3 linked regions of the Homo sapiens genome follow. The protein of the gene in region 1 interacts with the protein of each later gene in a pairwise test. Each region holds a gene or a part of one and is shown in the gene's direction. Other genes may lie near its edges.

Evidence for each region.
Region 2: the proteins of ANKRD40 (region 1) and RFC3 interact in binary tests that used the Homo sapiens proteins (3 or more experiments, as listed by UniProt).
Region 3: the proteins of ANKRD40 (region 1) and AHCY interact in binary tests that used the Homo sapiens proteins (3 or more experiments, as listed by UniProt).

Annotation. Positions count from the first base shown.
Region 1 is NC_000017.11:50,704,915-50,712,745, reverse strand, and holds the start of ANKRD40 (ankyrin repeat domain-containing protein 40), read left to right. Parts: upstream 1-4,831; 5' UTR 4,832-5,091; coding exon 5,092-5,225; intron 5,226-7,831.
Region 2 is NC_000013.11:33,813,218-33,821,154, forward strand, and holds the start of RFC3 (replication factor C subunit 3), read left to right. Parts: upstream 1-4,931; 5' UTR 4,932-4,961; coding exon 4,962-5,048; intron 5,049-7,914; coding exon 7,915-7,937. UniProt on the Homo sapiens protein: Subunit of the replication factor C (RFC) complex which acts during elongation of primed DNA templates by DNA polymerases delta and epsilon, and is necessary for ATP-dependent loading of proliferating cell nuclear antigen (PCNA) onto primed DNA.
Region 3 is NC_000020.11:34,300,350-34,308,315, reverse strand, and holds the start of AHCY (adenosylhomocysteinase), read left to right. Parts: upstream 1-4,960; 5' UTR 4,961-5,045; coding exon 5,046-5,073; intron 5,074-5,325; exon of another isoform or gene 5,326-6,535; coding exon of another isoform or gene 6,536-6,569; intron 6,570-7,966. UniProt on the Homo sapiens protein: Catalyzes the hydrolysis of S-adenosyl-L-homocysteine to form adenosine and homocysteine. Binds copper ions.

The DNA of each region.
Region 1 (7,831 bases):
CTCTCTCCTGCCACCCTGTGAAGGAGGCGCTTGCTTCGCCTTCCCATAATTGTAAGTTTCCTGAGGCCTCCCCAGCCATGTGGAACTGTGAGCCAATTAAACCTCTTTACTTTATAAATTACCCAGTCTCCGGTAGTTCTTTTTTCTTTTTTTTTTTTTTAAACAAAGTCTTGCTCTGTCGCCCAGGCTGGAGTGCAGTGGCACAATCTAGGCTCACTACAGCCCCTTCCTCCCAGGTTCAAGTGATTCTTGTGCCTCAGCCTCCCGAGTAGCTGGGATTATGGGCTTGCGCCATCACACCCACCTAATTTTTGTATTTTTTAGTAGAGACAGGGTTTCTCCATGTTGGCCAGGCTGGTCTCCAACTCCTGGCCTCAAGTGATCATCCACCTGTCTTTGGCCTCCCAAAGTGCTGGGATTATAGGCATGAGCCACTGTGCCCAGCCTTAGGTAGTTCCTGATAGCAGTGTGAAAATAGACTAATATACCTACCAAACATCATAACTTAGCCTAGCCTTAAATGTGCTGAGAATACTTTAATTAGCCTACAGTTGGGTAAAATCATCTAACACAAAGCCTATTTTATAATAAAGTGTTGAATATCTCACGTAATTTATTAAATACTGTACTGAAAATGAGAAACAGAATAGTTGTTTGGTTACACAAAGTAAGGTTTCTACTTATTTTTGCACTTTTGTGTATCACTTTTGCACTGTTGTAAAGTAAAAGAATCCTAACTGCAACCATCATAAGTTGGGAACCATCTGTATTCTTCAGTCTTTGGCTGTCTTCTTTTTAAAAATTATTTATTTACTTACTTATTTTAAGACAGGGTCTTACTGTCAGGGTTTCACTGTGTTGTCCAGGCTAGTCTGGAACTCCTGGGCTCAAGGGAATCCTCCTGTCTCAGCATCCTGAGTAGCTGGGATTAACAGGAACAAACCACCATTCCTGGCTGTCTTCAGCAGTCTTTTTTTTTTTTTTTTTTTTTGAGACAGAGTCTTACTCTGTTGCCTAGGCTGGAGTGCAGTGGCATGATTTCGCCTCACTGCAACCTCCACCTCCCAGGTTCAAGTGATTCCCCTGCCTCAGCCTCCTGAGTAGCTGGGAATACAGGTGCGCTCCACCACACCCGGCTACTTTTTGTATTTTTAGTAGAGACAGGGTTTCGCTCTGTTGGCCAGGCTGGTCTGGAACTCTGACCTCAGGTGATCCACCCTCCTCCGCCTCCCAAAATGCTGGCATTACAGGCATGAGCCACCGCGCCTGGCAGGAGTCTTCTCTCAGCACTCACAGACTCCCTTGGGGCTATCTCTTCTATTCCCATGACTTCAGCTAGCACCCTTTGCTGACTGCCAAAATACAAATCACCAGCCCAGATCTCCTTCCTAAATGCAATACCCATTCACATAACTGTTTACTGAACATATCCATTTAAATGAAAATCAGAAAAGAAAGCACAGGCTCAGAAGTTGAACTTGAGTTCAAAGCCTTGCTCCATCACAAACTACGATGTATAGCATTGGGCAAGTTTGTTTATTTATTTATTTATTTATTTTTGAGACAGAGTCTCACTCTGTTGCCCAGGCTGGAGTGCAATGGCGAGATCTTGACTCACTGCAACCTCTGCCTCCAGCACCTGCCGCCACGCCCATCTAATTTTTGTATTTTTAGTAGAGACGGGGTTTCGCCATGTTGGCTACGCTGGTCTCAAACTCCTGACCTCAGGTGATCTGCCCGCCTCAGCCTCCCAAAGTGCTGTGATTACAGGCATGAGCCACCGTGCCTGGCCAGCACTGGGGCAAGTTAATTACCTCCCTGAGCCTCAGATAATAATGATGGTCCTGTTTTACAGAGGAGTTGTTGTGAGGATTAAATGAGATAATCCATGTACAGCACTTCCTGCAGCACCTGGCAATGAGTTGATAGTAGCAGATAGTAAAGAGTAGTAGTAATTAAAAGGTCTCAGAAAGTTCAAGTCAACAGATTCAAAAGTGAATTCATGACCAAACCTCAAACCTTCTCTTCATCCTTTGTCCCAAATCTCAATAAATCACACCACCATCTAATCATCCAGAAACCCGAACATTATCCTTGTTTCTTGACCACCACTGCCCTCCCATTCTGCCAGGTTAAGTTTTCCTAACGTAAACCTTGTTGTAACCCACCTATGATCCAATGAATGTTTAAGATGTCTAGGCTTTGCACATATCCATTCATTCAATCCATAGAACAATCCTGCAAGGTGGGTGCTACTATTATTCCTGTTTCGCAGGTGCAGAATTTGAGGCACAGGAAAGTTGAGTAACTCATTCAAGATTATATGAGTGGCAAAGCTGGCATACAAACCCAGGCAGTCTGGCGTCTGTCTCCACACTCACTACCACTATGCCACATTGTTTCTATTGTAATGCATAGCACATTCTATTGTTCGCCTTGTCTCCCCTGATAAACTGTTCTTCAAAGTCAAGGACTCTGATTCATTTGCAGCAGCATCCTCAGTGACTAGAACAGTGCCTGGCAAACAGCACATGCTTAATACAGTTCAGTGAGTTAGGTAGTTCCCTAGAGACAAGACAGAGTAGAGATAAATGGAAGTAGTAATAGAACAGCCAGCAGGTTACATTCAGTTATATCCAAGATCAGAAGTTTTGTTTGTGGATAAAATTTTGTTTTTTTTAATCTGAAGATAATAAACAGAAGACTGAAATCAGAGTAAGTAGAGGTTGAGTTTAAGAAGATCTACTAATATTCACGGATACAGCAGTTATGTAGGGTACATGCTATAATCCTTTTAAGGAAGGGACATTTGACAAACTCTCATAAAGAGAACTCATAGACTTTGGGGGCCGGGCGCGGTGGCTCATGCCTGTAATTCCAGCACTTTGGGAAGCTGAGGCGGGCGGATCACCTGAGGTCGGGAGTTTGAGACCAGCCTGAGCAACATGGAGAAACTCCGTCTCTACTAAAAATACAAAAAATTAGCCAGGCATGGTGGAACATGCCTGTAATCCCAGCTACTCAGGAGGCTGAGGCAGGAGAATCGCTTGAACCTGGGAGGTGGAGATTGTGGTGAGCCGAGATCGCGCTGTTGCACTCCAGCCTGGGCAATGAGAGCGAAACTCCTCCATCTCAAAAAAAAAAAAAAAAAAAAAAGAACTCATAGACTTTGGGGTGCAGTCACGAACAATTTTTTTTAACTGCATTAAAAACAAAAAACAACAACAACAAAAAAACAAAAACAGGCCAGGCGCGGTGGCTCATGCTTGTAATTCCAGCACTTTGGGAGGCTGAGGCTGGCAGATCACATGAGGTCAGGAGCTGGAGACCAGACTGGCCAACATGGTGAAACCCCATGTCTACTAAAAATACAAAAATTAGCCGAGCATGGTGGCACAGGCCTGTAATCCCAGCTGCTCGGGAGGCTGAGGCAGGAGAATTGCCTGAACCTGGACTTAGAGGTTGCAAGGAGCTCAGAGATCGCCCCACCGAACACCAGCCTGGGCAACAGAGTGAGACTCTGTCTCAAAAACAAGCAAACAAAAACAACAAGCCACTACCTACTCCCATGTCACTGAAATTGTGTTGAAGGACTCAAATCCAGTGCCATACACATCAGTTTCAGATAGAGTATCATGCTGGATGTGAGAATTAAAATTTAAATTGGGGGAACAAATGAAAATGTAAGCTCAAGCAGGGTTACAATTTGCCATGGGGGTCAATTTAAGTGTGTAGTCAGTTTATATTCAGCACCACCTGGTGTGCACTGTGTACTGTGTGAATTACTGTATCATACTAAACAAACAGACATTGGTTTTTCTTAAACTGTAGCAAGAAAAATGCTTGCTGTGCAGATCCCAGCAGCCCCAAGAGACGGAAATGAAAACTCCATGCCTAAATTTATCCCTTCCTATTTCATCTCTCCTTGTTCAGGCCTTCCTCCCTTCCTCCCCAGGGCTATTTCCTTAATCTTGACCCCATCTGTAAAGTTCCATCCTGTGCCACATCGGAGGATCTCTTCAGGGCACCTGGGCTCAACAAAACAATATTTCCTTTTTCTCCCACTGGGTATAAAACAGTGCCAACTGAGGCTCTGAGCCTCATTAGATAGATCGGGCAAGAAGTGAAGCAAAATGCTGTTTACATGTACACCACAGCTCTTCCCAGAGCACTTGGAATCAGGACCAGGACACCTCCAAAGCCTCTTTGGTGTTTTTCCTTTCTTTTCTCCTTATATGGCCTTCATGAAGAGTAACTAATTACAATCTGTAAGCAGTAATTACAGTTCATAAACTGTGAGCACAATATAAATATTTTTCCTGAAAGCCAGGTTAGAAGAAATCCTGTCTAAAATGAGATGTAAAACAACAACAATTGAAATAAATATTCTAACTGAATTGTCCCCAAGCACTGTCAAAAAGAAGAAGAGTCTAATCTATCTCTGTAATAATGGGCGTATTATAGTAGGATCGTTTTCAGCCCATTTCCCCATCCTGCTGGGCACGAATTGGCTCAGATAAGGAAAAGGAGCCAACCAAACTGGGGGAAAATAACAAAAAAACCCCAAATCCCAATAAAAAGAACCCACCAATTATTTTGGATGCCTGGTAAACAGCCTGCACCAGAGGATAAGGCTTTTCTGGCCCTCAGCTATGCTTTTTTCTCTTTTCATGTGTCTTGTCCTCCTCCCTTGAAACTGCGGGGTGGGGAAGTCTAAAAATAGTCAATGAATCATGGCATATAATATTGTGCAGTAGTTACATAAACAGCCAGCCCGGGCGCCGGAGCCCCGGGTCGGAACGGAAAATATCTGGGTCAGCGTTGTCACACTGAACAGGGTCCCCCGGAGCCGGCCTTCGGGAGGCGCGGCCCGGGAGGAGGCCTGGGCCTGCGGGCCGGGAGCAGCAGGGGCGGCCCGCGGGAGGGAGCGGAAGTCCCGGGGCGGGCGCGGGCAGCGGCGCGAGCAGGGCGGGCGAGTTCCGCGCTCCCTCCCCATGGCCGGGAGCGGGCCGCGGCGACGGCGGCGGCGCTGACAGGCCCCGGGCGGGGCGGGGCAGGCGGGCCTGGGCGGGGGCCTGGGGCTGTGGGAAGATGAACGCCCTCCTAGAGCAGAAGGAGCAGCAGGAGAGGCTGCGGGAGGCCGCGGCCTTAGGGGACATTCGGGAGGTGCAGAAACTGGTGGAGAGCGGGGTGGATGTGAACTCCCAAAATGAGGTCAACGGCTGGTAAGTGGGGAGCGGGGGAGGCCTAGGGTCAGGGCAGCCGGTCGGAAGGCGTGGGGCAGTCAGTCGCGACCTGGGCCCAGCGCGGGACGCCTGGCTACGGCGAGGCCTGCCACCTCGGGCCTCCGAGATTGTGCTCTCTTGAGGCCAGCCCTGGCCCCCATGCCTCGTGCGGTCGGGAGCGCGTCCTGCCCAAATCCCGGCCCACGTGGTCCACTCGGGGCAGCGCCCACTGGGACTCTGGTGCCCTACCCCCTTCCCCCGCGCTCCCGGCTCACTTGGTCAGAGCGGTGCTGGAGGCAGTGATTCTCAGCGACTATGCGTTGGAGCTCACCCCAATTCGAGTGTTGAGTTAATTTGCCGTAGGTGCTTCTGGAGAACGCATCTTGCAGAGCTAAAAGCATAAGCAACTGAGCAAATATGAATTTTATAAACTAGCACGATTTCCTTAGCCAAGACCAGGAAAAAAAAACACATTTGCATCACCATTCTGCTTCTCTGTTGTTTCACTGCAACCGATTTGCTGCTGCTGCCTGTAGTTGCCTGTTTGAGGGAAAACTCATTTGTTTATCCTATCGATTATTTTCTTTCTTTTTTTTTTTTTTTTTTTTTTTTTTTTTGAGACAGGGTCTTGCCCTGTCGCCCAGGGTGGAGTGCAGTGGCATAGTCTCGGCTCACTGCAACTTCTACCTCCCCGGCTCAGGTGATCCTCCTGCCACAGCCTCCCAAATAGCTGGGAATACAGGCACGCGCCCCCACACCCGGCTAATTTTTTTTTTTTTTTTTTTTGGTATTTTTGGTAGAGATGGGGCCAGGTTGGTCTCAAACTCCTGGCCTCAAGTGATCCACCCGCCTCAGCCTCCAAAAGTGCTGGGATTACAGATGTGAGCCTACCGTTCCTGGCCAGTTTTCTTATTACAATTTCAAATACAGAATGTCACCCAAGACTTTAGATGTCTGCCTGCAGATTGAATTCTTCCCAATTAAATAAGGAGTCTCATCTTAAGATGTTGCTGGTGGTCAAAACAGAAAGTTACTGAATGTGGCATTATTCCGCTCTCTGCATTTAAAATTTAAAATTTTGATTCAGGTAATGCTTAGCCAGACTATTTTGCTAGCTTAGAGTTAAAGTGAGTAGCACTTTGGGAGGCTGAGGTGGGCGGATCACGAGGTCAGGAGATCAAGACCATCCTGGCCAACATGATGAAACCCCGTCTCTACTAAAAATACAAAAATTAGCTGGGCGTGGTGGTGCATGCCTGTAGTCTCAGCTACTTGGGAGGCTGAGGCAGGAGAATCACTTGAACCTGGGAGGCGGAGGTTGCAGTAAGCCAAGATTGCACCACTGCACTCCAGCCTGGGCGACAGAGCAAGACTCTACCTCAAAAAAAAAAAAAAGTGAGTTTACATTTTGTTTTTTTAAGTGGAATCATCCATTTTGGAACTGAAAGGGACAATGGAGAGAGGCTCAACCACAGAGAATAACTTGCCCTAGGCCACATAACTATTAATATGATAGCACCAGAACCATGGTTTCCAGACTGCCTCAAAAGTCTACCTACCTGGACCTGGCGCGGTGGCTGACGCCTGTAATCTCAGCACTTTGGGAGGCCAAGGTGGGCAGATCACGATGTCAGGAGTTCGAGACCATTCTGGCCAACATGGTGAAACCCTGTCTCTACTAAAGATACAAAAATTAGCCAGGGGTAGCGGTGTGTGCCTGTCATCCCAGCTACTTGGGATGCTGCAGCAGGAGAATCACTTGAACCAGGGAGTTGGAGGTTGAAATGAGCCAAGATCACACCACTGCACTCCAGGCTGGTGGCAGAGCGAGACTCTGTCTCAAAAAAAAAAAAAAAAAAAGTCTATCTTCCTGGTAGGACCTGGTGGCTCACGCCTGTAATCCCAGCACTTTGGGAGGCCAAGGCAGGAGGATCACTGGAGTCCAGAAGTTTGAGACCAGCCTGGGCAACATAGTGAGATCCCAGTCTCAAAAAAAAATTTTTTTCTACCTAATTTCCCTAAAGAAAACAGCCTGGACAGCTGTCCAGAAGGCCAGGAAACAGTGGATACTACCTTTTTGTTCTGTTTTTTTTTTTTTTTACAGGTCTTTGCAAACTTGCTGTTGTGTATGTAACCTTTTCTCAGCATTCCTCTGGTTCAAAGCTGTGAATTACCATTTTGGCACTGGGAGGCGGTGTTGTGTAGAAGGAGCCTGGTCTTTCCTGCAGGTTCTCCTCCATTCCTGCCTAGCTATGGGACTTTGCCTGAGATGCTTCATTTTCTACTTGTTCCAGAAGAGTATTGTGAGCCCTTAATGAGATGAAGCATAAATAGCTAACATTTATTGAACTTGCTTTGCAGCACAGATAGGATAGGGTTCTTTTTTTTTTTTTTTTTTTTGAGACAGAGTCTCGCACTCTCGCCCAGGCTGGAGTGCAGTGGTGCCAGGTGCCATCTTGGCTCACTTCAAGCTCTGCCTCCTGGGTTCACGCCATTCTCCTGCCTCAGCCTCCCGAGTAGCTGGGACTACAGGTGCCCGCCACCACGCCCGGCTAATTTTTTGTATTTTTAGTAGAGATGGGGTTTCACCGTGTTAGCCAGGATGG
Region 2 (7,937 bases), on another chromosome or scaffold:
TTCACCATGTTGGCCAGGCTGGTCTTGAACTCCTGACCTCAGGTGATCCACCTGCCTCGGCCTCACAAAGTGCTGGAATTACAGGCGTGAGCCACTGCACCCGGCCCAGAAAACACTTTCAACTCTTTTTGTGTGCGTGTGTATGTGCGTGTGTGCATGCACACATGTGTATTCTGGCATCAATTCCATGTTTCTTAATAACATGCTAATACTACTACTTCTTGATTTTGCTTGTTTAGCTGTCAATTTCCTTCTGTGGAGATGAGGTCTCACCTCTCATACAATTCCATTCTCACAACTGTACACACTTCCTTTCCTCTCATTTCCCCCTATTTTTATATTATAATTTCTTCATAGGGAAATACACAATTTTTTTTTTTTTTTTGAAACCGAGTCTTGCTCTGTCACCCAGGCTGGAGTGCAGTGGCATGATCTCGGCTCACTGCAACCTCCACCGGGTTCAAGTGATACACCGGGTTCAAGTGATACTCCTGCCTCTGCCTCCTGAGTAGCTGGAATTACAGGCATACGGCACCTTGCCTGGCTAATTTTTGTGTTTTTAGTAGAGACAGGGTTGCACCATGTTGGTCAGGCTGGTCTCAAATTCCTGGCCTCCCAAAGTGCTAGGATTACAGATGTAAGCCACCATGCCCAGCCCATAATGTTTACATTATTTGGATTATGTAAATATTATTCACAGTTGAGCATATTTTAATGCTATAAAATTTCCTTTCTCATGTATTATCTATTCCTTATGTAGTTAGCCCTCCATATATCCCAGTTCCACATCCACAGATTCAACCGAACATAGATTGAAAATATTCAGAAAACAACAACAAAAAATAACAAACCAACAATAAATAATACAAATAAAAAACAATAACAACTATTTACATAGCATTTTCTTTACATTACTTATTGTAAGTAATTTAGAGATAATTTAAAGTATACAAGATGATGTGTGTAGACTATATGCAGATACTACATCATTTTATATAAGGAATTTGAACATCCATGGATTTGGTGATCTGTAGAGGTTCTGGAATCAATTCCTCATTAACACGGAGGAACAACTCTGTACCTTTTATGTACTCTGCTATTAGTAATTGTCTTGTTTTGTCTTTGACTTAGTGTTTAACACACACCTTGCTAATTTATTACTAAACTCTTTTCTATAGGAGTAAATCTCATCTCAGTATGTGCAAGCATATCAGGTATTAATTTTATCTTCTTGAAGACAGTAATCCTCCTGCTTCTGCCTGGACTGGTGGTTTTCCAAGCTTGTTCTGTCTTTGTCGCCTGGGTCATCCTCTCACTTTGCTCCACTGTGGGATCTCCCGTGTTCAAGGTTTGTCTCTCACAGGCCATAGATTAGTCATATTTCAAACATCAAGATGATAATAACATCAGCGATGAGAGAAACAAAGCCCCGAAGGAATAAAGACCCTATCTTTTTACCCCTAGGATATTTAATCACATTTTGTGTTTTTAAAGTTTTAATTGTTTTTTCATGCCATTTCACTTAAAATAAAATTTCCTTTTAAATGCCTATGAATGAGTATTTTCAGTTTTAACATATTACCTTTTAAGAAGGTAGCAAGGGTAATTGAAGATGTGTTAAATATATATCACAGTTAAATCATACAGAAAGTAAAGTGTTTTTTTTTTGGTTTTAGAATTGTAGTTGCGTATATAAAAGCATCAGTAAAATAGGTGGTTTGTAATATGCTCAAGTGGAACAATTTATGTTTTATGATTTTGAAGATCAACAAGGTGAAATCCACAAAGTTCAGACATGGACTTAACTCCCTGTAACTAGCCATACCAAACAGAAACTCAGCCAAGATTTCTGCAACATTAACAAGCTGATTCTAACATTTATATGAAAATGCAGAGGACAAAAACTGGCAAAGATAATCTTGAATAAGAATAGAAGTCAAACTACCAGAAACCAAGACCTATTATAAGGCTATAGTAATCAAGACAGTCTGGTACCTGTGCATAGATAGACAAATAGATTGATGGAACAAAACAGGGAGTTCGGCAACAAATCCACACATACAAGGTCACATGATTTATGACAAGGTGACCCTACAGTACAGTGAATAAAGGTCTTTTTAATAAACACTGCTGGTGTAACTGGATATCCACATGGAAAAAAATGTACCTTGACCTTTTAGACTTTTTTTTTTGTATGGAGGCATACAAAAAAAAAATTCCAGTGGATTTAAAATCTAAATGTGAGAGCAAAACCATAAAACTTGAAGAAAAACTCACAGAAGAACATCTTCAAGACTTTGGAGTAGGTAAAGATTTTGTAAAACAGTACAAGCTGAACTATATTTAACTTAAGAACTATTTATCAAAAGACACCATTAACAGAGATTAAAGCCAAGCCACATGTAGGAAAAAGATTATTTAAAATACATGCATGAAAAGGAAAGAAATTAATAAGAAAAAGACAAACAATCTAATAAAAATAGGCAAAATATTTGAATAGTCACTTTACAAAAGAATATTCTAATAATTAATAAGATGCTCAACATCATTTATCATTAGGGAAATTAAAATCATAATGAGATTTCTCTGTAAACCTGCCAGAATGACTAAAATTTAAAAAGGTTGTTGGTTGGTGAAGATGTGGAGAAATTGGAATCTTTTTGCATTGCTCATGGGAATGTAAAGTGGTGCAGCCACTGTGGAAAACGGTATGGCAGTTACTCAAAAAATTAAACTTACAATTACTATATGATTGCCGGGCGTGGTGGCTCGCTACTGTAATCCCAGCACTTTGGGAGGCCGAGGCAGCTGGCTTGCCTGAGCTCAGGAGTTCGAGACCAGCCTGGTCAACATGGTAAAACCCTGTCTCTACTAAAAATACAAAAAATTAGCTGGGCGTGGTGGTGCACAACTGTAACCCTAGCTACATGGGAGGCTGAGGTGGGAGGATCGCTTGAACCCAGGAGGTGGAGGTTGCAGTGAGCCGAGATCGCATCACTGCACTCCAGCCTGGGAGACAGACTGGGACTCCATCTCAAGAAAAAAAAAAAGAGCTAAGATACCTGAGGGCCAGAGTCATTAAACATTAAAGTGATTGCAGCTGTAGTTTACCAACCCCGAGGACTTTACTTCCTCTGTAGCAATTTCTCATATCCTATATATTCAAGAGTCTGGAGTAAAATTGCTAGATAAATACAGGGCCCTGGTTACATTTGAATTTCAGATAAAGGCTGATTTTTTTTCTCATATAAGTATGTCCCTGGCAATATTTATTACAATTTCAAATATTGCCAGGGACATACTTATATGAGAAAAAAAATCATTTGTAATAAATTTTGCCATAGACATATGAAAAAGCTTCTGAAATTCAAATTTAACTGGACTTCCTGGGTCACCACACTATTTCTCCTTCCTCAGAACCCCCAACAATATTGAAGCACATGTCTTCATGTGCTTCAATGGTAGAGACATGTCTTCACGGTAGAGACCATCAACCACTGCTCCTTATTGAAGTTGTCTGTCATGCCTGTGGTCACTCTTGCCAAATTATTGATCATTCTAGCACTTGGTTCTTCTCTTTATTCCTCTCAGTACTTATTTCCATTATCATTCATTATGATTATGATATACACATAGACCACAATTCAGTATCCCTGCTTCTGATTTCCTTTACCTTCTCATTTCAAACACTTCCTCCATTTCAATTCCAAAGGAGAGAAGCATAAAGAAGATGAAGCTTTTTTGCAATATTAAATAGGGTGGTCAGGGAAGCCTCAGTGAGGAGATAATACTTGAGCCAACATCCTGAAGGAAATGAGGGACCCAACTCTGCTGACTGGAGAAACATAGTCCAGGAAGAGGAAACAGTAATTGCAAAGGCCCTGAGGCAGAAGCCTTCCAGGCTTATTATAGAAAGTTTCTCGAGAACAGGGATTAAATCTTATACTTGGTGGTGTGGATAATACCTTACCTGCAGGAGTAATTCATGTAATATGACGATTCATAGAAGAACATGATAAATTATTGATTAATAAATGAGTAAGAGGCACCTTGGTGAAAGGTTATTAAGTATATTTGGAAATCATTTCCTGCCTGTAAGACCTTGCAATCAAATGGCAGGACTTAGGGTTCTTAATAATACATAAAATAAAAGCATAAATTAAATAAGGAATTAATATTATGTACAATGAGTAAAGTGCATTTTGAGAGGCACTATTTGAAGAGAACTTCAAAAGTTGCATATCAACTTCATATGCAGAATATTTTTCTGAGGGGTTCAGATGCTTCTACACATTTTAATTGGAGGGCTTTCAAATATTCTAGACTTAGAATGCATATTAACCTCGTGTCTTCTCCCCTACAGACCACATTTGGGTAGTTTTTCCATGCTCTTGATTCTTTTGTTTCTAATCCAATAAGAATATTGAGGAATAGAGGTAACAAAGGATAGTGAAGATCAGACATTTTCAAGCGATTCATCCAATGAAGCTTTACTGGGTACCTGCCAAGTGAGTGAAACCCTGAGATGTATATATTCTAGTGCCGAGGACAGAGTTCCACACCTAGCAGATATTTAGTAAATTTTTGTTGAATGAATTAAGTGAATGAAAGAATGAATAAATGAAAGGAACGGTCTTCTCTGAGGTATCTGGATGTGACGCCAAAAGGGTCAGAACCACATTTTCAATTCCGCTTGATAATTTCTAGAATATAATAGACGGTGCGAACAAAGAGAAAATAAATAAAGCAGTGAACTTCAGAACTAGAGGGCATCGACGCGGCAGCTGATTTTGTCTGCACACGGCCCCCGTAGCCTTTCCGTCCAAAATCATTTACGCGGCCGCGACCGGTAGTGACGTCACGAGATTTGGAGCTCGCGGGAAAACTTGTCTCTGCGTTGTGGGGAGGACGCGCGCTCGCGCGGGATTTTCAAGCGTAGGCCCCCGGGAACTCGAGCTGCCATGAGCCTCTGGGTGGACAAGTATCGGCCCTGCTCCTTGGGACGGCTGGACTATCACAAGGAGCAGGCGGCCCAGCTGCGGAACCTGGTGAGTCTGCGGGGGCCGGGAGCGTGGGAGAGGGGAGGCCCCCCGGCTCGGGGTTTCGCGCCCCCCTGAGGAGCAGTGCTTCTCCCGCCCGCATTGGAAGGTGATAAGTGCTATGGAGAAAAATAACACAGGGAAGGGGGAAGAGGTGTGGGAGGCTGGCTTGTATTTTTAAACAAGAAAAGCTCCACTGAGAAGTGGCATCTGAGCCGAGACTTGAAGGAAATTGAAAAGTCATAAATACAGAAATCCGAGCAAAGAGTGGAACAGGTAAGAGGGGACAGCAAGTGCAAAATTCCCGGGCAGGGATGTGCACGGCATGTTCTAAGAACCTCAGGAGGCCGGCGTAGCCGATAGTGGTGAACCAGCGGGAAGGGTAATCGGAGATGGGTGTATGTGTTGGGATGGAGTTGGAGTGCAGACCCAGTCAGTCTCAGAATAAGACGAGAAGCCGTTGGAGCATTTTGAGCGGAGATGACACCATGTGATTTACTTTCTAGCTGGCTTAAGATTTCTCGATGTCATTGTCATTTACAAGTAAAGTGTTGTAAATATGTATTTACTCCAAAGATCGTTTCTAATTCTCAAATAAATTGTATTAGGACGTTCCTGAGATTAGTTTTTTTTTTTTTTTTTTTTTTTTTTGAGACGGAGTTTAGCTGTTGTCGCCCAGGCTGGAATGCAATGGCGCGGTCTCGGCTCACTGCAACCTCCGCCTCACGGGTTCAAGCGATTCTCCTGCCTCAGCCTCCCGAGTAGCTGGGATTACAGGCGCCCGCCACCACGCACAGCTAATTTTTGTATTTTTCAGTAGAGACGGGGTTTCACCACGTTGGCCAGGCTGGTCTCGAACTCCTGACCTCAGGTGATCCGCCTGCCTCGGCCTCCCAAAGTGCTGGGATTACAGGCGTGGGCCACCGTGCGTGGCTGAGATTAGAGCTTTGTGAAAGATCCTCTCCCCTCTATCCTGATGCCTCTTTGTCTGTTGTAGTTGATAAAAGTGCCCAATGGCAATATTTTGTGAGAACGAACTGAATCTTCCAGGGAGTAGAGAGTAAAGAAGGATCTTTAGGAGAATAAAGTGTCTGTGGAAGACATTTATCCACTCCTTTTAAGGAACTCAAATTAATATATGATGCTGATGGAAACGTTTTTGCCCAATACCCTGGTTTTCCCTTCCGACCTTTCTTAGATTTACAGATACTATTTAATTAAGTGCGTCTTAAAAATAAGAAATAATAAGAAAAGATTGTACACGTAAAAATCATTAGACTAGTTGATAGTGTTGTGACATTGAAGGTTTTTTTTTGGTCTCTTTATTGATACTGCATGTATACTAATTTAAAATAAATTGATTACTGCAGTATCCATCATTTATAGACAAATTACATTTTCCGTCAATAGCTTTGTCTTCAGTTTTCCTAGTGATAGAATACATTTTATTTTCTGTGGCCACATTTTGTTGTACAGAATTTGGAATGTATATTTTGGACATGAATTTAATATAATGGTCTTATGTGTTAAATTTGCTTTTAAGAAATGTTCACCTGTTTACTCTTTTATTTGCAGCTTAATCAAACTATGAAACATTTAAAGCATAACCCTTATTTTTGATTAGATTGAAGTTGAAAAAACAAGGCAGTAAGTGTCTGTGGGACACTTGCCATTTTCCAGGCAGTATATTAGATTGAATAGTTCTTTTCCTTGGGACTTTTTAGTGACAGAGATGGATGAGTTTACAAAGTATTAAAATTCATTGCAATAAGCGCTTCTCTTAAGATACGTATTCCATTTTTTCAATAATGGTTATTTACAGAACTTCACCTTACAAGACTTTATGCTCCCGAGGCTAAGGTCTGTCACCCACTCATCTTTATAGCCTTCATAGCACTGGTTCCCAAACCAGACTGATCATCAGAAACACCCGAAAAGCTTTTGCAAAACTCATCATCAGCAGATACTGTTAGTGCCCTACCCAGTCCTCTTGCTTTTAAGTGCACACAGACTGACTTCTGACTTCTAACTTTGTACATCTGTACTTTGCCTGAGGGCTTTTCTCTCTGTGACACCCATAGTAGATTTGAAATGCCTGGAATTAATGCTCTTTCTTTTCCCCCATCCACTTTTCTAAGCAGGCTTCAAGAAAGAACTCATCAGAGATAATCATACGGCAGCTTCCCCACCCTTTGGGTGGGTTAACACTCTGGTGGGTGTTTATGTTGGCTTTAAGAGTTTCCCTAGCAGGATCAAACACAGATACCTAGAGCCATTCAACTTGACAACACACTCTTACTGGCTGCCTTCCTTTCCCTGTTTCGCATCCCCACTCTCCTATGAAGTTTTCCTTTATCTCACAAGTAACCTCCCAAAGAAACCAAATGCACTGAATTGTTATCACAGGGACTGTTTCTAATAGTCCGAAGTAAGAAAGGCCTGAATCTCAGAGTTACAGAATCCTAATCTCATGGATGATAGGGTCTGTTCATTAGTCAGTCCTTTATTTTAAAAAGTTTTCTAGGAGATTCTGATAGTCAGGTTTGGGAGTTCCCGCTTTCTAGCATTTAGTTTTGTATCTTGCATGTGCTGTCACGTATATAAGTTATACAAAATTAGTGTCAGGCGAATAGTAAACTTTTCAGCATATATATATTTATATATATATATATATATATAAAAGATACACAATATTTTGTGTATCTACCCATGAAACTCCAAGTTTTACACATATATAAAAAATTGGGTGTATCTACTCATGAACTGGGAGTTTCATGGGTAGACACATAAAATATTTGTTACTTAAAAAGTAGTTTGGTTCTACCTAGAGCAGTTCAGTTTGACTAGGGAAAAATGCCTTGTTCTTTTTTTTCAGGTGCAGTGTGGTGACTTTCCTCA
Region 3 (7,966 bases), on another chromosome or scaffold:
GCCTCCCAAAGTGCTGGGACTATAGGCCTGAGCCACCACACCTGGCCAAATCTTTTAAAATTTAACAGGTACTATTCACAATAGCAAAGACATAGAGTCAACCTAAATTCCCATTAATGGTAGACTGGATAAAGAAAACGTGGTACATATACACCATGGAATACTATGCATGCATAAAAAAGAACAAGATCATGTCCTTTGCAGGAACATAGATGCAACTGGAGGCCATTATCCTTAACAAACTAACCCAGGAACAGAAAACCAAATACAGCATGTTCTCACTTATAAGTGGAAGCTAAATAATGAAAACACATCAACAGAGAGAGGGAACAATGGACATGGGCCCTATTTGAGGGATGAGGGTGAGAAAAGGGAGAGGTTTAGAAAAAAAAAAACTTAGGTGCTGTGCTTCGTACCCAGGTGATGAAATAATCTGTACACCAAACCCCCAACTCACCAGTTTACCTATGTACCAAACTGGCACAGGTACCCCTGAACTAAAATAAAAGTTAAAAAATTTTTTTAATTTAATGGGTGACAAAACTTTGCCATACACTCACCAACAATGAACATTATCATTTGTAATTAAACCTTTTATTTTGAGATAATTGTAGATTCATGTGCAGTTGTAAGAAAACACAGGGGGCTGGGCACGGTGGCTCACGCCTGTAATCCCAATACTTTGGGAAGCCAGGGCGGGCGGATCACCCGAGGTCAGGAGTTCGAGACCAGCCTGACCAACATGGAGAAACCCCATCTCTACTAAAAATACAAAATTAGCTGGACACGGTGGCATGTGCCTGTAATCCCAGCTGCTCAGGAGGCTGAGGCATGAGAATTGCTTGAACTTGGGAGGAGGAGGTTGCAGTGAGCCAAGATTTTGCCATTGCATTCCAGCCTGGGCAACAAGAGCGAAACTCCGACAAAAAAAACAAAAAACAAAAAACAAAAAAACCTCAGCATGTTGGGAGGCTGAAGCAGGTGGATCATTTGAGGTCAGAGGTTCAAGACCAGCCTGGCCAACATGGCGAAAGCCCATCTCTACTAAAAATATAAATATTAGCCGGGTGGTAGCGACATGCACCTGTAATCCCAGCTACTCAGGAGGCTGAGGCAGGAGAATGGCTTGAGCCTGGGAGAGGTGGAGGTTGCTGTGAGCCTAGATAGCAGACCCTGTCTCAAAAAAAAAAAAAAAGAAAAAGAAAAAAGAAACAAAGAAAACACAGAGAAATCCCAATGCCCTTTGCTCGCTTTCTCCCAATGGTGACATCTTGCAAAACCATAATAAAACATCTCAACTAGGATACTGACAATGATAAAGCAAGATCCAGAACATTCCATCACCACAAAGTTTCCTCATGTTGCCCTTTTACAGCCACATTTACCTCTCTCTTGCTCCCGTCCCCTACCTAATACCTGGCAACCACTAATCTGTGGTTCATTTCTATAATTTGGTCATTTCAAGAATATTATAGAAATGAAATAATATACTATGTAATATATTGGAATTGGTTTTTGTCACTCAGCATAATTCTCTAAGGATTCATCCAGGTTGCTGCATTTATCAAAGTTTATTCCTTTTGCTGAGTATTATTTCATGGTATGGCTGTACCAATTTGTTTAACTGTTCATCCATTAAAAGAACCTGGCTGGGCGTGGTGGCTTACACCTGTAATCCCAGCACTTTGGAAGGCCAAGGCGGGAGGATCACTTGATGTCAGAAGTTCAAGACCAGTCTGGCCAACATGGTGAAACACCGTCTCTATTAAAAATACAAAAATTATCCGGGTGTGGGAGCGTGTGCCTGTAATCCCAGGTACTTGGGAGGCTAAGGTACGAGAATCACTTTGAACCTGGGAGACAGAGGTTGCAGTGAGCCGAGATCACACCATTGCACTCCAGCCTGGGCAACAGAGAGACACTCTTTCTCAAAAAAAAAAAAAAAGAAGCTGAAATAATAGGAAATTGGCTATATCAATTGCAATATATCCATAGGCTAGAACATTCTGCTGCTAGAGAGGTTGCATAAGGCCAGACTAAGGTGCTTAGACCTTCTCCTGAGACCAGCAGTCTCCAAAGTTTTGTTCATATGAACTTAACGGTACAAATATTAGCAAATATCTCATTAGCTGATATCTCAAAGCACGATATACAGTGAGGATGAGAGTCATCATTAATTAATGAGAGGGCATGTAAATTCACATTTCTTTTTTTTTCTTTTTTTTTTTTTTTTTTTGAGGCAGTCTTGTTCTGTCACCCAGGCTGGAGTGCGGTGGCGCAATCTTGGCTCAATGCAACATCCGCCTCCTGGGTTCAAACAATTCTTGTCCCTCAGCCTCCTGAGTAGCTGAGTTTACAGACGTGCACCATCACGCCCGGCTAATTTTTGTATTTTTAGTAGATACAGGGTTTCACTATGTTGGCCAGGCTGGTCTGGAACTCCTGACCCCAAGTGATCCACTCGCCCCGGCTTCCAAAGTGCTGGGATTACAGGTGTGAGTCACTGCGCCTGGTCCGTAAATTCATATTTCAAAGTGTCTTTTTCATTGTTTTCTCAAATTTTATTACATTCCTTACAACATGGCTGACAAAGACCAGCATTCATACCAGAAAGAGACCTGTCAGCTGTGTCCTTTTCTACTTGTTTGCTGTGCTGGTAATTTTCACAGTATCTGGAACTTGCCATTTCTTTGCAGGAATATTTTGAAGCCATTTTTCTGTTCTCGTAGGACAACCTAGTAACATGATCCTACGTTTAGTTAGACTGACACGACTCACTACACACTGCAATGCACTGCAGAATGCTGAAAGGGATGCGTGAGGACCCTGCTGCCCACCTCCCAGGCGTGGACCCTCGTTCCCTCAGGAAGTCTCTGCTTGACATCGGCCCTCATGACTCTCAGACAGAGGTCAGATGTACAGATCAAGTGAGACCAATACATTTACTATGTCATAGAAGACCTTAATTCTTATTTTTATTTTTTATTTTTTGAGACAAGAGTCTCCCTCCGTCGCCCAGGCCGGAGTGCAGTGGTGCGATCTCGGCTCACTGCAAGCTCGGCCTCCCGGGTTCACGCCATTCTCCTGCCTCAGCCTTGCGAGTAGCTGGGACTACAGGCTCCCGACACCACGCCCAGCTAATTTTTTTTTTTTTTTGTATTTTTAGTAGAGATGGGGTTTTACCCTGTTAGCCAGGATGGTCTCGATTTCCTGACCCCGTGATCCGCCCGCCTCGGCCTCCCAATGTGCTGGGATTACAGGCGTGAGCCACGCGCCCGGCCAGAAGAGTTTAATTCTTTTCTCATTTTTAGGTTAAAAAATGAGTAGAGGCCGGGCACGGTGGCTCACGCCAGTAATCCCAGCACTTTGGGAGGCAGAGGCTGGCGGATCACCTGAGGTCGGGAGTTCGAGATTAGCCTGACCAATATGGAGAAACCCCGTCTCTACTAAAAATACAAAATTAGCCAGGCGTGGTGGCTCATGCCTGTAATCCCAGCTACTCGGGAGGCTGAGGCAAGAGAATCGCTTGAATCCGGGAGGCAGAGGTTGGTGTGAGCCAAGATCATGCCATTGCACTCCAGCCTGGGCAACAAGCGCCAAACTCTATCTCAAAAAAAGAAAAAACAAAATTAGCCAGGTGTGGTGGTGCGTGCCTGTAATCCAAGCCACTCGGGAGGCTGAGGCAGGAGAATTGCTTGAACCCGGGAGGTGGAGGTTGCAGCGAGCCTAGATGGTGCCACTGCACTCCAGTGTGGGCGACAGAGTGAGACTCCATAAAAAAAAAAAAAAATTCAGGGGAAAAAAAGCAATTAAAAAAACATAACTATAAAAATAATACAAATTACAAAACAACCATTTGCATAGCATTTACATTATATTAGTTATAAGTAATCTAGAGATGATTAAAGTGTACGGAGGAATGTGCATAGGTTATATGCCAATACTGCCTCATTTTATATGAGGGACTTGAACATAGAAGGGTTTTGGAGTCCACAGAGGTCCTGAAACCAATTTCCCCTTCCCATGCCTGGGATGACTGAATTATACAGCAGCAAAAATGAATATACTCAAGCTATATGCATGAGTCTCATAAATATAATGCTCACAGAAAAAAGCAAGTTGCAGAAGGGTAAATACGGTTGATATATAAAGGTGCTAAACACAGAACTATTTAATGATATACGGATGCAGTAAAAGTATAAGAAATGTATGCAAACTTACTTAAATTCAGGGTGTTGGTTACTTGGAGTAAGGCGAATGTTTGGGATGTCAGTAGGTACCTGACAAATGGCAACTTAACTTTGTTTTGGTTTTTTTGAGATAGGGTCTTGCCCTTTCGCCCAGGCTCAAGTGCTGTGGTGGGATGATAGCTCACTGCAGCCTCGATCTCCAGGCTCAAAAGATCCTCCCTCCCGCCTCCGCGTCCCAAGTAGCTGGGACCACAAGCGCGCGCCACCACGCCCGGCTAATTTTTAATTTTTTTTTGTAGAGTTCAGGTCTCACTGTGTTGCCCAGGATGGTCTTGAACTCCTGGGCTCAAGCGATCCTCCCGCCTTGGCCTCCCAAAGTGCTGGGATTACAGGTGTGAGCCACCGCGCCTGGCCTGCAACTTTACTTATAATAATCTGTGTGGCAGATGTCATTTGGCCCATTTTACAGATGAGGAAATTGAGGCACAGGGAAGTGAACTGGCGGAATTTCAGTTCCGCTGGGTTTTGACACTGAATCAACTGGCTGAACCAGCGAGAGGACGGCCCGGCTGGCTCTCAGGCCTCTCCCGGCGCTCCCTTCCGGACCGGTGAGTGAGACTCCTGGGGCCACGCCTTGTGAAATTCTGAGGCTTCTTTTCAGGGATCGAAATCCCCTCCGGCTCCGCCCTGCGCGTTGGGCCCCGCCCCAGCGGGTCATGAATATGCAAGTGCGAGGAAGATATTTAAAGGCGTCGGCGCCACGCGCATATCCCTGCTCGGCGCTGCCCGCCCAGTTCCTGTTCCCAGACTGAGGCCCAGCCCCCTTCGCCCGTTTCCATCACGAGTGCCGCCAGCATGTCTGACAAACTGCCCTACAAAGTCGGTGAGTCCCAGGACCTGCAGCCGGTTGCGGCCGCCCGGCACCCGCCCGGGGCTTGTTCGTGGCGGGGGCTGCAGGGCCGACTCGGGGCTCTCTGGACCCCCTGGAATCGCAGCCTCGGCGCGTTTCTGGCCGCGCGAAGCCAGCTGGAAGTTGGAGTTCTCGCGCGGCCATGAGCGGGCCGTTCCGGGTGGCCGTGGACTACAAGTCCCAGCATGCCCCGCGACGCCGGGGCCGCCGCGCGGTCTGCGAGCCGCAAACTGGCGGCGTGCTCCGCGGGAGAGCACACCTGGCCACGGCCTGGGACGGCTGGCACCTGCCGGACCCTGCTCGGGGGGCCTGCGCCCGGCCTCCTAGGCCTGGACCGGACCCTGTCCAGCTGGGCGGCCCCGACGAGCGTCCACCCCTCTCTGGGCCTCCTACAGGGACGGCGAGGGCACCCCGGAGGGTGTATGAGGAGAGGCCTGGAAAGCGAGCCCCAGGCCGGCTCCGATCCTCCTCTCCCCTGGGACTTTGGGCCAGTTACCCAACCTGTGGGGTCCCCCACCCCTCCAGCAGGGGCAGCCTTGCAGAAATCTCGAAGAAAATTTGGAGTGGTTTGAAAAATCCTGCTGTCCCACCGATTGAAGTGTAATACAGGGATAGTTAACGTTTACTTAGTGTTTCCTGTGGGATCGGCACTGCCTTCTAGCTTTATTCTAGTCTCATGGCTCTATAGGGAAACTGTTCTCATTTTATGATGAGAATCCTGAGGCAGAGGTAACTTGCCCTCAGTCTTACAGCTGGTGGTGATGGAGCAAGATTGGAACGCAGGCCATCTAGATCTCTGAGCGCACCCTTTCACCACTGTGTGCAAGCGAATACACGCGGAACAATCCTAGTGAATTTTCAGCAAAAACCAGTTCAGTTTGGCTGGTAGCTTTTCAAGTAACTTTGACACTATTGGACCGGGTGTGGTGGCTCACCCCTGTAGTCCCAGCACTTTGAGAGGCCGAGGTGGGCGAATCACTTGAGGTCAAGAGTTCGAGACCAGCCTGGCCAACGTGGTGAAACGCTATCTCTACCAAAAATACAAAAACTAGCTGGGCGTGGTGGCGGGCGCCTTCATTCCCAGCTACTCGGGAGGCTGAGGCAGGAGGACTGTTTGAGCCGGGGAGACGGAGGTTGCAGTGAGCCGAGATTGCACCACCACGCTCCAACCTGGGCAACAGAGCAAGACCCTGTCTCAAAAAAAAAAAACAAACAAAAAAAGACACTATTAAGTCTGGAGAATGCCATCCACATTTATGGAAACACTTGCTGTATATCTGGTGATTTACGTGTGTTTACACAATAATCTTCATAGAGGTGGACGTAATCCCGTTATATAGAGCATGAAACTGAGGCCCTTGGGAGGTGACTTGCAAAGATTCTGTTGAAGTAGTTCATCAAGTTGCTACCAGAGTAGACTGTCTCCATTGTGTGGATGCTGAAACTGAACCCAGAAAGGTTATGTGAAGGTCACATCAATAGTAGAGCTGGAATGGGGGCTTGTCATACTGTGGAGAGATTAGTGGGTCAGGATTGGGGCCATTGGGTTGTGTGGGTGGAGATAAAGCTGGATTTGGGGATGGGGAGCTTAGCTGGGTGGGGCTGGAGGAAGGAGGCCCTGCTGTATGCCAGATCTTGATCATATGGCATTATCTTTACTTAAGGCGCATAGCAAGCTAGGGATGATTATCCACACTTTACAGATGAAGAAACTGATGTTTACAGGGGCTCTTGCTGTTCCTCTTGGCTTGTCCTGGGGACAGGTGTTCCTGTGACTTTTGCAAGTCCTTAGCTCCAGAGATTGCAGCATCTAGCCTCTCCTGTGCCTTTGGAGTTGAGGGTCCCAGGGAAAACTGTGGGGCTGGCACAGTGTCCTCGAGGGCACTGAAGGAGTTATTTTTAGCTGGAGGGACATGTGGTGGTGGAGGGGTGGAGCTTAGCAGCACAGGGCATAACCCATTGTCCCATACAGCCGGGCCCCTCCCAGGAGGGGCCTTGAGAGGGGCCTCTGCTCTAGCCCTGCCTGGCTGCCAGTTCTGGTTCTGCGGTTAATTGGCTATGGAACCTGCAGCAAACTCCTCTCTGGGTCCTCTCTGGGTCATTAGTAAATGCTGGGACTCAGACTAGGTTCAGATTTGTGTTGTTTTTCTTTGCCACCCTTGTCACGTGCCAGCCCCTCTCATGGATCTTTCATTCAGTTCTGAGGACAGATATGGTCGGTAAACAGTTGCTGACCCCTTCTCTGAGCCAGGTCATGCTGGAGACACAAAGGTGACCCAGAGACAGGGGTGGCACAGACATGCATACAGATAAAGTAGTATTGTCTCCATTTTATGTGAGCAGATCTGCCACTTGTCTGTCTCCACGGTCACCACCCCAGTCTGGTCTCTCTCCTTGCAGGTCTCCCTGGATCTCTTGCTCCGCAGATCCACACAGCAGCCAATGGGGTCTTTTCAAAAGACAAATCTGGTCTCTGAATGCTGGCCCCTGAAAACTGTAGGTTCCCCACTTCACTGGGACTGAAGTCCCAACTCATCTTATGCCTCTATTTGAGTCACCCTGGTGCACTCTTGGTTCCTCTAGCAGGGATATACTAGGTTCTTTCCTGTTTCCAGGTTTTTTTCAGCACCTACTGTGTGCCAGGTACTGTATTAGGTGCTTGAGAGGAGCCTTCCAGGCCGAGAACTGCTTGGGTTAAAGCCCTGAGGTGGAAATGAGTGGAGCTTGCCTGAAGTCAGTCAGGAAGCCTGTGTGTTGAACAGCTAGTGAGTGGGGAAAGTGGAGAGATGGAGGAGGGGCAGGCAGTCATGCAGATAGGGCCCGAAGATTGAGGGAAGCCATTGGAGGGTTTGCTTGTTTAGTTTTG